2 separate regions of the Homo sapiens genome follow, and region 2 is linked to region 1. Evidence: fine-mapped expression QTL. A gene starts in region 1. The other region holds a variant in brackets. All regions are shown on one strand. Distances are from middle to middle.

Region 1 (5,378 bases):
CTGGCTAATTTTTATATTTTTAGCAGAGATGGGGTCTCACCATGTTGCCCAGGCTGGTCAAAATGTATCTTACGCTAGCGAAACTGGGAAAACCAGACCCTGTATTCCCCTCCTTTATGTGTCCACCGAATATTGTTTTATTGTTCCTTATAGTTTTGAAGAAATTTTCATATGGAAGACAATGTGAATTCTGAATACATCTGAGCCTCCTGGAACTTATAAGCAATGCACACCTGAGGCAAGTCACAAGTGGTGCCGGTGGTTTCCATACAGATTGGAGAATGTGAAAGCATTACACCTTGAGAAAGATTGCTGACATTCATGGTATCCGATTCTGACATGCTTTCTACTTTTTCATGAGAAGTATCCACTTCAAAATGTACAGGATCTGAAGGTGATGACCAAAATTTTTGATAGTCCTTGTTCATAACTGTTGAACAATAGAAGACTTCTTTAAAAAAAAAATGTGTCTATTAGTAGGTATAAACAAAAAGTTTTTTCCCTATCCCTCTTCTCATTAAGAAAGTAGCAAAGTTCACTGCCCTTATTTGAAATGTCATTTGTCAAGTTATTAGAAAAATTAAAAATTTTAGTCTGAGTATACCGTAATTTGGTATGGTAGTAAATACTGATTTGGAGAAAAACAAACAGTATTGGCTACTATCCAATAACTCCCTAGAAGGCTTTGGACCTAGAAGTGAAGGGATCTCTGTGTTATTTAATCAAGGATATTTACAAAATATTATCAGAGACCTAATAGTTTCCACAAAATCCTGGATTTTTATTTACTTGATACCTTCCACTTGAACACCTCACTACCAAGTCAAACCCAGCATTGTAACTGTTTTCCCTCCTCACTTTCCTATACTGCGCCTATTCCCTCAGGTACATGTGTTTGAAAACTGGACTTGTCTTGGCATCCCTCTACCTCATCATGCATGGCTATTCAGATACCAAGTCCCGTCCATGTCTCCTTTAAAAATGTCTTTCAGGGCCGAGCGCGGTGGCTCACGCCTGTAATCCCAGCACTTTGGGAGGCCGACGCGGGCGGATCACGAGGTCAGGAGATCGAGATCATCCTGGCTAACACGGTGAAACCCCATCTCTACTAAAAATACAAAAAAAAAAAAAAAAAAAAATTAGCTGGGCGCGGTGGCGTGTGCCTGTAGTCCCAGCTACTCTGGAGGCTGAGGGAGGAGAATGGCGTGAACCCCGGAGGCAGAGCTTGCAGTGAGCCGAGATGGCCCACTGCACTCCAGCCTGGGTGACAGAGCAAGACTCCATCTCAAAAAAAAAAAAAAAAAAAAAAAGTCTTTCAGTAACCTGTGCTTTCTTTCCATCCCATGTTGCCACACTGGTCCATATTCTCCTGACTTCCTCAGGCCTGTCCAGAGCTCCAGAGCTGAGAGTGGAAAGGATGGCCACTCACATTGATTCTATAAATTTTTGTCCTTCCAGGCCATCCATAGCCTGGAGTGACATCCCCTACCCGGTACTCCCCTGCTCTACTCAGATCAGGCTCATTTCCCTGCAGACAGATAATGTTCCTTACGAATTAAGCTTCAGTCATCTGCCCTGGCACGTGCTTCTCTCCTAAAACCTTCCCATCTACCCATTCATCTATTTTCAAAATTCCTACAATGTCTTCAGTCTCTAAATCTCTATCTTACAATTCAGCACTTGGTGATTTCGTTTACTGTTTTAGAGCTTCACCACTGTTTCAAGGGTGTTAGTGTTTGTGTTTACAGATCATAAATGTCTTGAGAGGAGCATACTTAGGGCTTTCCAATATCCCCTACTGCAAATGGACCAGTGCTGTCTACACAGCAAATATTGATTGAATAAAACCTGCATTCCAATGACTTATTTCTATCAAGCTCTTTCAATTTATAGTCATTACTCATCTGCCTGGATTCTTTTATTGAATTTCTGAATGAATAGTTTATTGAAAATTAGTTGTTTTCAAACCTATGTCATCACTTGGTAAAATATAAAAAAGTAAGCCAAGCAGACCAGTCAGGATCAGTGAAAGGCCCAACTTTATGCTCACTTCTCCCTTGTCTTTCAAATAATGCTGCCTGGATTGTGGTGAGATCTGAAAAATTCTTGCTTTGTTTTCCCAATGCAAAAAAGCGCAAAGGCCTTGTTTCTTAGTTTTCTTGTTTGTGAACCCAGCACTTCCAATTACATTTCTACAACTTTGTTCATCCCTCATGTGGCACTGCACAATCTGCCAGTTTACCTTTTTAATTTAAAGTTAGACTATTTTTTCCATCTTTCATTTGTCCTTACAGGTTTATGTTGGATTTTTAACATATTTATCAAATGTTTGAATAGATGTTCCAGAGACATTCTAAAGCTGTTTTAAGATAGGAGTTAAAAGAGGTGTCACGGGAGTTACTCGCAAAAACTATAGTTTTGTTTAAAAGCTTTTTCAGTTGTAAGACAAACTTTACCTTTTTAAAAAGCACTTATCTCATTCATTTTTCACCTCAAAACGAGACACCAAACTTTTTAAGACACAAAAGTGTGCTCACTTCCAGGATCCATAGTTTCTTGGACCCACGCTACGGACCTGGCTCTCCCTCCCTCTGCACCGGGTTTTGTGGGAGGGAGAACGCTTTCCAACCTCCTCCACCAAGGACTCTCACAAACTCGCAATCGGGCTCCCGGAGTGCTGGAACGCCCCTGTGTGACGTCCGCCCGCGCCGGGGGAACTCCGCAGAGACAGGTGCAGCCCGCGAGGCCCGAGCGACCCTACTGTGGGTGCGGTGTCTTCCCAGAGAGTGGTGAAGTTAGGAAGGTACGACCCCCTAGGCCGAACAGCCTGTGGGCTAGCTGGCGCCTCCTGCCGCAGTAAACACAAAGTGGGGTACAGAAACGAAAACTCCGGGAAGAAACGGCCAGCACGGGCCTCGCCGTGCCGGCTACTCAACACGCCTTCCTGAGAGCACAGAACATCCACAGCCCTATACAGCGCGCCATCCAGAGAGCTCCGGACTCCCAGCTCGGCGCAGGGGCGGGACTTCCGCTCAAGTCAGACTTCCGGGCGAGGCGGTGAGGGGCTTCCGGTTGGGGTGGCAGGGTGGTGGATCTGTCGGTCCCGTTTTCCCGTCGCACGTGGTGGCCACTGTTGGCTTCTGAATGGTTTGCAAGGCGGATATCCACGCCAAGGCCTTTGGATCGGCCGTGGGTACATCCGTCTGAGCCGTTCCTTTCCATCGCAGAGCGGCGGCCTCCGGCGGCGCTCTCCAGTCATGGACTACCGGCGGCTTCTCATGAGCCGGGTGGTCCCCGGGCAATTCGACGACGCGGACTCCTCTGACAGGTAGGCGGCCGTACAGTGCCCTGGCTCTGGGTACGGCTCTCTCCTTGACCGCCCCCTTGGGGTGTGGACTCTTGTTTGCGGTTTAGAGGGAGACTAGTGGTTCATCACTCAGCGTCTCTCTTGACAACCCTTTGCCTGTTTCTGCATCCCAGCTGGGTTTTTCTCCCAGTTCACGCGGCAGAGTTAAGTGAAAGCTACTTGTCAAGGGAGTCTGCGGTTCTCAGGTCGGTTAGCGTCACTGGGAGGCAGAGTTGGGGATAGCGATTAGGAAACATGGGTTTTTGCGTTTTAACCACATTTAGCGTTCAACAAATACTTACTAAGCACTTAATATGTACCACGTTCTGTCCTGGGCGCCGGAGGTAACAAGAAGAACCAACTTCCTGCTGTCATGGAACTTTACCTTCTACGTGAAAGAGAGGGCACACCATTTAAAAACCAAATAATGATGTAGACTATGCAAATCGTTTGATATACCAAGTGGTGACTGAATGGGTAGGGAAAGGTTAAGTCCAGATTTGAATGACAAGGAGCTAATCCTGGCAAGAGCAGAGGGAACAGCATTTCACACAGAAGGGACAGCAAGAGCAAAGGCCCCGAGGCCAGAGTGCCTAGAGCACAGTGGAGGTAGTTGAGAAGATTGGTAGGGTGATAGAGAAGTAAGAAGGGGGGCCAGATCATGGAGACCTTTACAAGTGATGGTGAAAAGTTCAGATATTAATGTGGGTCTTATGGAAAGCCATAGGAGGGATTTTAGCAGAAGAATGACATTATTTGCTTGGTGATTTAAAGGAATCATTCTTTCTAGGTAGATGATGTTCATGGAGGGTGGGAGTGGAACAGAGAGACCAGTTCAAAAATAATAAGGTAATCAGATTCAAAGATGGTGGGGACTAGAGCCCAGATCCTAAAGATATGTCTTGGAGGTAGAAGTGGCAGCGTTTGGTGGTAGACTGGACGTGGAGTCTGGGGAAAGAGGGATGAAGGATAACTCCTGCCTAAAAGCAAAATGAAACATATTGGAGTTATTTTGGAATTCCAAGAAAACAGCTTGTACTTTATGTTTACAGTAAGGATTCATCACATGCGGATTTTGTTAATTATTGGGGATGTTTTCAATAAATATATGTATGTTGAATGCTTTCTGTGAGTCAGATCTAGTCTTAGGTGGTAGGGAGGCATTGGTAAATACCATCCTGAATGACACAGAGCTTGCACCCTAGCAGGGGAAACCGATATTATTAAATAATTAGACTATTTGTATTCGAATTGGGTAAGTAGTACAAAGGAGAAGTGGGGGAAAAATAGGGAAGACTTCCTTGAGCAAGTGATAGTGAGCTGATACTTGATGGATGAGTAGGGGTTAGCCAGAGAAAGAGGAAGGGCATTCCAGTTTTATGGTTACGGAGAAGTGTACAAAAAGCTTTAGAGAAGAAAAGCAGCAGAAGAAACACAGCCAGCATAGCTAGTGGGTAGTTAATGGTAATGAGAGGGCACTAATTTACCATCCACCCCAGGGTATTGTAAGGATACACCAGTGATTTTCCATTGGGGAAGATGTTGCCATCCCGACTTCTACCCAGGGGACTTTTGGCAATTTCTGGAGACGTTTTTGTATGTCACAGCTGGGGGTGGTGGTACATTAGTGGCATCTGGTAAGTAGAGGCCAGAGATATGCTGCTAAAAATCCTACAGTGCAGAAGACAGTCCCCCACAACGAAGAATTATCTGGCAAAGTTACAACTTTAACATGCCACTCTAGGCAATTATATATCAATCTGTGGAGCATATGTATGAAGTCCTGGTAAGTAGCAAGTGTTTGATGATTGTCTGTTTTCTTCCTCCACATGTCCACGGGGAACCCTCAGAGCCATGGCTAATTAATAAATTGGGATTGATAATCTGAATTTACTTAAACTCGTCTGTTTTTCAGCTGGTATCTCATATTATCAGCTGCTTTTTTATGGTTTCTGTCCTTTTCTGTACATGAGAGGTAAAAACTGAGTCCTCTGTTGAATTTGGCCTGCAGACATGTTTTGTTTGGTATGCA
Region 2 (5,378 bases), 48 kb before region 1:
GTAATCTTTTATCCCTCACCCCCTTCCACTCTTTCCCCCAAGTCCCCAAAGTCCACTGTATCATTCTTTTTTTTTTCTGTCTTTGTACAATATTTTATAAAGGTCTTTACAGAGCAACATCCAGACTCCAGAATACAGCTGCCAAGGAGATCCTGTTATGCTGTGGTGACTGAGGGCACGGCAGGAGGCTCTGGCTTCCCACCCTTCTGTTCTGAGATGGGGGTGGTGGGCAGTTATCTCATCTTTGGGTTCCACGATGCTCACGTGGTCAGGCAGGGGCTTCTTAGGGCCAATCTTACCAGTTGGGTCCCAGGGCAGCATGATCTTCACCTTGATGCCCAGCACACTCTGTCTGAGCAACACATGGCGCACAGCAGTGTCAACGTAGTAGTTAACAGGGTCTCTGCTGTGGATCATCAGGCCGTCCACAAACTTCATGGATTTAGCTCTCTGTCCTCAGAGTTTCCCAGACACCACGACCTCACAGCCTTTGGCCCCAGTTTCCATGATGAACCGCGACACACCATAGCAGGCCCTCCGCACAGCAAGCCCTCCTAGGAGTTTGTAAGGCAGAGACTCTGCCTGGGCAATGGCACACAGACCCCTAGTGGCCACCTCTTCAGCATAAAGCTCTACACTGCCCTCTGGAGAGCCAAACCTCTTCTGAACTACAGCAGTCAGTTCCCGAATCCGCCGGCCCTTCTCACCAAGAACATTCTGTGTTCTGGTGGCTAAGACAATGATTTCTGTCCTGGTTGGTGTAACTCGCATCTCAACTCCAGAGTAGCCATCTTCAGCCAGCTCCTGAGTAAGAAACTCATTCATTTCAGCTTAGAAGATGCCATCAGTGACAAACTTCCTCTTCTTGGAAATTTGTAAGGCGATCTTGCCGCCATGCTCCGCTGAAAGGAAAGGCACTGTATCATTCTTATGCCTTTGTGTCCTCATAGCTTAGCTCCCACTTATGAGTGAGAACATATGATGTTTGGTTTTCCATTCCTGAGCTACTTCACTTAGAATAATGGTCTCCAATTCCATCTAAGTTGCTGTGAATGCCATTATTTCATTCCTTTTTATGGCTGAATAGCATTCCGTGGTGTATATATATACCACAATTTCTTTATCCATTCATTGATTGATGGGCATTTGGGCTGGTTCCATATTTTGGTAATTTCAAATTGTGCTGCTATAAACATGCATGTGCAAGTATCTTTTTTGAATAATGACTTCTTGTCCTCTGGGTAGATACCCAGTAGTGGGATTTCTGGATCAAATGGTAGTTCTACTTTTAGTTCTTTAAAGACTTTCCACACTGTTTTCCACAGTGGTTATACTAGTTTACTTTTCCACCAGCAGTGTAGAAGTGTTCCCTTTTTACCGCATCCTTGACAACATCTGTTATTTTTTGATTTTTTGATTATGGTCATTCTTGCAGGAGTAAGGTAGTATCACATTGTGGCTTTGATTTGCATTTCCCTGATCATTAGTGATGCTGAGCATTTTTTCATACGTTTGTTGGCCATTTCCATATCTTCTTTTAAGAATTGTGTATTCATGTCCTTAGCCCACTTTTTGATGGGATTGTTTTTTTCTTGTTAATTTGTTTGAGTTCCTTGTAGATTCTGTATATTAGCCCTTTGTCAGATGTACGGAGTGTGAAGATTTTCTCCCACTCTGTGGGTTGTCTGTTTACTTTGCTGATTATTGCTTTTGCTGCGCAGAAACTTTTAATTAAGTTCCACCTATTTATCAGTTTTTTAAGAGAACATAGAATTTATTAGATATTGAATATAAAAATAAACCATCTAAATAGGGGCCCAGGGAGCTTCCTTTATTTCTGTAGGTGCCTCCAGGCCTTCCCACCCCAACCCCAATAAAAACATTTTGCATATATAATATCTAGCAAACACTAAAAAGATGCAAAGCTTCCAAAGACAGCAGGCACTCAGCTTAAGGAGGGTGATGACTGGGTCAGATGAGATCTTCCTGGAGGAGCCCACAATTTTCTTAGTTGCAGCACTGACAAAAATACACCCCAGGCTTCTGGACCAGGGGCTGACATTAGGGGGTCCCTGAGCAAGTGATGGGCTAGAGCTACTCGTTGGGAGGCAGACAGTCTACTCCCTCAATGCATCTTCCAACTGCTTCACTAGCAAAGCCTGCTTCTGTTCCTGCAGCACACCACAGAACTGATGTATGGCCAATTTTAGCCGGGGGGAGCTCGTCTGCAAAGATGAGGTGGAACCGGCCTGGCTCCTTATACATACAGGCTTTGCCACAGGATAACAACAGCTTGTTGTCCAGGAAGCGGAGAGAGGAGCTGTTGCTCTTCAAATGTACAGGGATCCAGGTACTTTTTCAAGTTGATCCAGATATAGAGGCCAGAGCTGCAGCTGTGAAAGGGGATCTCCAATGCCTTTAGCTTGGCAGTGATGTACTTGTGAGCTTCCCACAGCCGGTAGTTATTGGTGGGCAGGTACACTTTGTCAATCCATTCTGTGTTCTGGAGCAGTTGACACAGCTTGTGCTAGGTGATGCCAGAGATACTGTGGAGGTAGCCAAAGGTGCTCACAGCAGAAGCCATCTCCTTGTGGTGGGTGTAAACAGAGTACCAAAGAGGAAGCCAGAGATGCCAAAATCCTTACTGGTGTCCCAGATCACATGGGTCCTGTTGTGATCAGGCAGACTTTTCATGCTTAGGACACTGTGGAATGTGATGGATTCATCAAAAACACAGATAGCATGTAAATCTCATCTATGATCACATGTAGGTTATACCTCTTGGCAAATTCCAGGTATTCCATCGCGAGTCTGAGGAGTAGATGTCACCCAGAAGATTCTGAGGGTTGATTAGCACAAGGCCTCGGACCTTTTTCCTCTCAGGCCTAGCTTTAAGCAGGGCTTCCTCTAACTTGTCCACAGCAAGGTGGAACAGATGGGTGTTTGCAACAGTGATCTCACTCTCCAGGTGGACAGGAATCAACTCAACCTTCACGTACAGGCAGGAGCTAAAGTCAAAGCCACTATAGAAGGGAGCAGGCGCCAGGAAGGCCTCGCTTGGATCACACAGAACCATGGCCAGTGCAGAGAAGACAGAGCAGCAGCCATTTAGAACAACCACATTTTCTGGATCAAGTCGGGCAGGTGCCTTGCACTAGTAGGTCAGGAACTGGGCCACTTCTTCTTGCAGGAACGGGTGCCCTCTCCAATCAGGGTA[C/T]TGCAGCAAGATGTCCTCAATGCCGTTCGTGTCACTTTCTTGCAATCTTTCAGTCATCAGATCTATGCAGAGCTTGTTCTCACTGGTGCCAAGGTTAACGAAGCTCAAGGTGTTCTTGTCCTTATGATATTTGTCTTTTTGGTAGGCATTGTAGTCCTGGAAGCTCGACTAATAGAAGACAGAGATGTCAATCCCACAGTTGGATAGGTCACGGCTGATGAAGGCAGCTTCACAATCACTCAGTTGGGGAACTGGATCAGGCTGCCTGGACAGTTGGGCCCCCTGCCCATATCTGACATCACCCCTAGAGTCCTGGGAAGGAAGAGGCACTTGGAGCTCCAGGCCACTTATGGCCCCAGACTATAGGAGCTGGATCATCTGGCACATTAAGCGACCCAGAAGGGCTTCATGCTCACGGATGGCCTGAGTGTGCCTCCATTCTTCCAGCGGCAGGGCCCTGCCTGCTCATCAGCTGCATGAAGTACTCCCTCATGGTCTACCGCAAGTGCAGCATCATCTCAACAGCTGGGTATAGATGCTCTGGTCTCTGAGGACCTGGCCTCTCATCTGGCCAGATGGCACAGGAAGGGTGTCTGACTGATGACTCATACTCCGGGTATCTGTAGTGGCTCCTGCAGGCTGGCTGTCACCTCTGTCTCTGTTTTCACTTATCTTCTCTCCAGTCTAAAGCCTCACTGAACAAACTGTCCTTGACTGTCAGTGCTCAGGGAACTGCTCTGCCACCCTTCTCCTCAATGAATGTGTTAATCATTGTTTTTGTTGCATTTGCTTTTGGGTTCTTGGTCATGAAGTCTTTGCTTAAGCCAATGTCGAGAAGGGTTTTTCTGATGTTATCTTCTAGGATTTTTATGGTTTCAGGTCTTAGATTTAAGTCCTTGATCCATCTTGAGTTGATTTTTGTATATAAGTTGAGAGATGAGGATCCAGTTTCATTCTTCTACATGTGGCTTGCCAATTATCCCAGCACCATTTGTTGAATAGGGTGTGCTTTCCCCACTTTATGTTTTTGTTTGCTTTGTTGAAGATCAGTTGGCTGTATTTATGCCAACCCTTTTTTCATTAAAAAAGAAGCCTGGCCAACATAGTGAAACCCTGTCTCTACTAAAAATACAAAAAAATTAGCCAGGTGTGGTGGTGGGTGCCTGTAATCCCAGCTACTTGGGAGGCTGAGGCAGGAGAATCGCTTGAACCCGGGAGGTGGAGGTTGCAGTGGGCTGAGATGGCACCACTGCACTCCAGCCCAGGCGACAGTGCGAGACTCTGTCCCACAAAAAAAAAAAAGAAAAGAAAAGAAAAGAAAAAGAAGTCAAAGAAATACAATGGGATTGTGACTATAAATAAGGGCAGTACTAATGTTGTTTTTACTATATACTGAAATGCAGCTTTCTGTGGGGTTTACAAGTTTTAGGGGTAAACAAATGTTCACCTTATTCTCTATGATCAAGGTATAAAATCACATGGATTTTTAAAAGAATGTTCAATCCAATCAAACTTTTTGATCATTCTGTACTCAAAGTATCATGAAACTTAGAAAGAAAGGTTGTGGATTTACACTGAAATTTTCTGTTATTTTTGATATGGTTTTGCATGGAAAAACATTTACAGGGGCTTCATGTGGGTAGAAATAACAGTTGCTGTGACAGGGCAGTGAGTTGTCATTTATGAATTCAGTGTTGTCTGTAGGAGATATGGCATGGAAGTATTCTTCCAGGACTCTGTTGGCATTCTGTGGATGGTGAATAGTAAATAAGTTAATGCAGATTTTGATGAGTGACTTCAAAAACTACAGATTATGATCAGGGATCATATAATGGGTAGGAATGGAATAGAAGGTCACCTTGAATAACAAGGTAGCAGGGCTTGAGAAAATGGGAAGCCAGGACAGGAAATGAACTGGAACATTTTTATAAGAGGATCGACCTCTCACCAGGATGATGTAATGATTGTGATGGGGACAAAGATAGAACAAGTCTCATTTTGTAGGCAGGTGCTCCTTCCTACAAAGGAAGAAATGGGATAGATTCATCAAAAACACAGACAGCACGTAATGTTGTTTGGAGCAGGAACTTCTACATCTGAAACAGACAGATCTGGACTTAAGTGTTAGAAAGTGGTGAGAGGTGACAGCGTGCTGGCAATC

Evidence for each region. PIP is the estimated chance that this variant, and not a neighbour inherited with it, causes the effect. A credible set is the group of variants that fine-mapping cannot tell apart.
Region 2: its variant is the best candidate, but not a certain one, in a credible set for the expression of RIOK1 in esophagus mucosa (GTEx, PIP 0.67).

Annotation. Positions count from the first base shown.
Region 1 is chr6:7,386,746-7,392,123 of GRCh38, forward strand. It overlaps RIOK1 (RIO kinase 1), which reads left to right and starts at 3,063. Exons shown (of 17, transcript NM_031480.3): 1 at 3,063-3,328. The coding sequence starts at 3,258. It overlaps CAGE1 (cancer antigen 1), which reads right to left and starts at 2,997. Exons shown (of 14, transcript NM_001170692.2): 1 at 2,457-2,997; 2 at 234-451. The coding sequence starts at 428. RefSeq lists enhancers at 2,676-2,735, 2,746-2,795, 2,926-3,345, 2,949-3,735.
Region 2 is chr6:7,338,684-7,344,061 of GRCh38, forward strand. All of the region lies in intron 11 of CAGE1 (cancer antigen 1), which reads right to left. It also overlaps the pseudogene RPS3P4 and the pseudogene ACCSLP1. Among named protein-coding and RNA genes, the nearest start is that of SSR1, 28 kb to the left of the region's middle. RefSeq lists a silencer at 3,728-3,890. The variant C/T (reference allele first, on the strand shown) is at 3,218.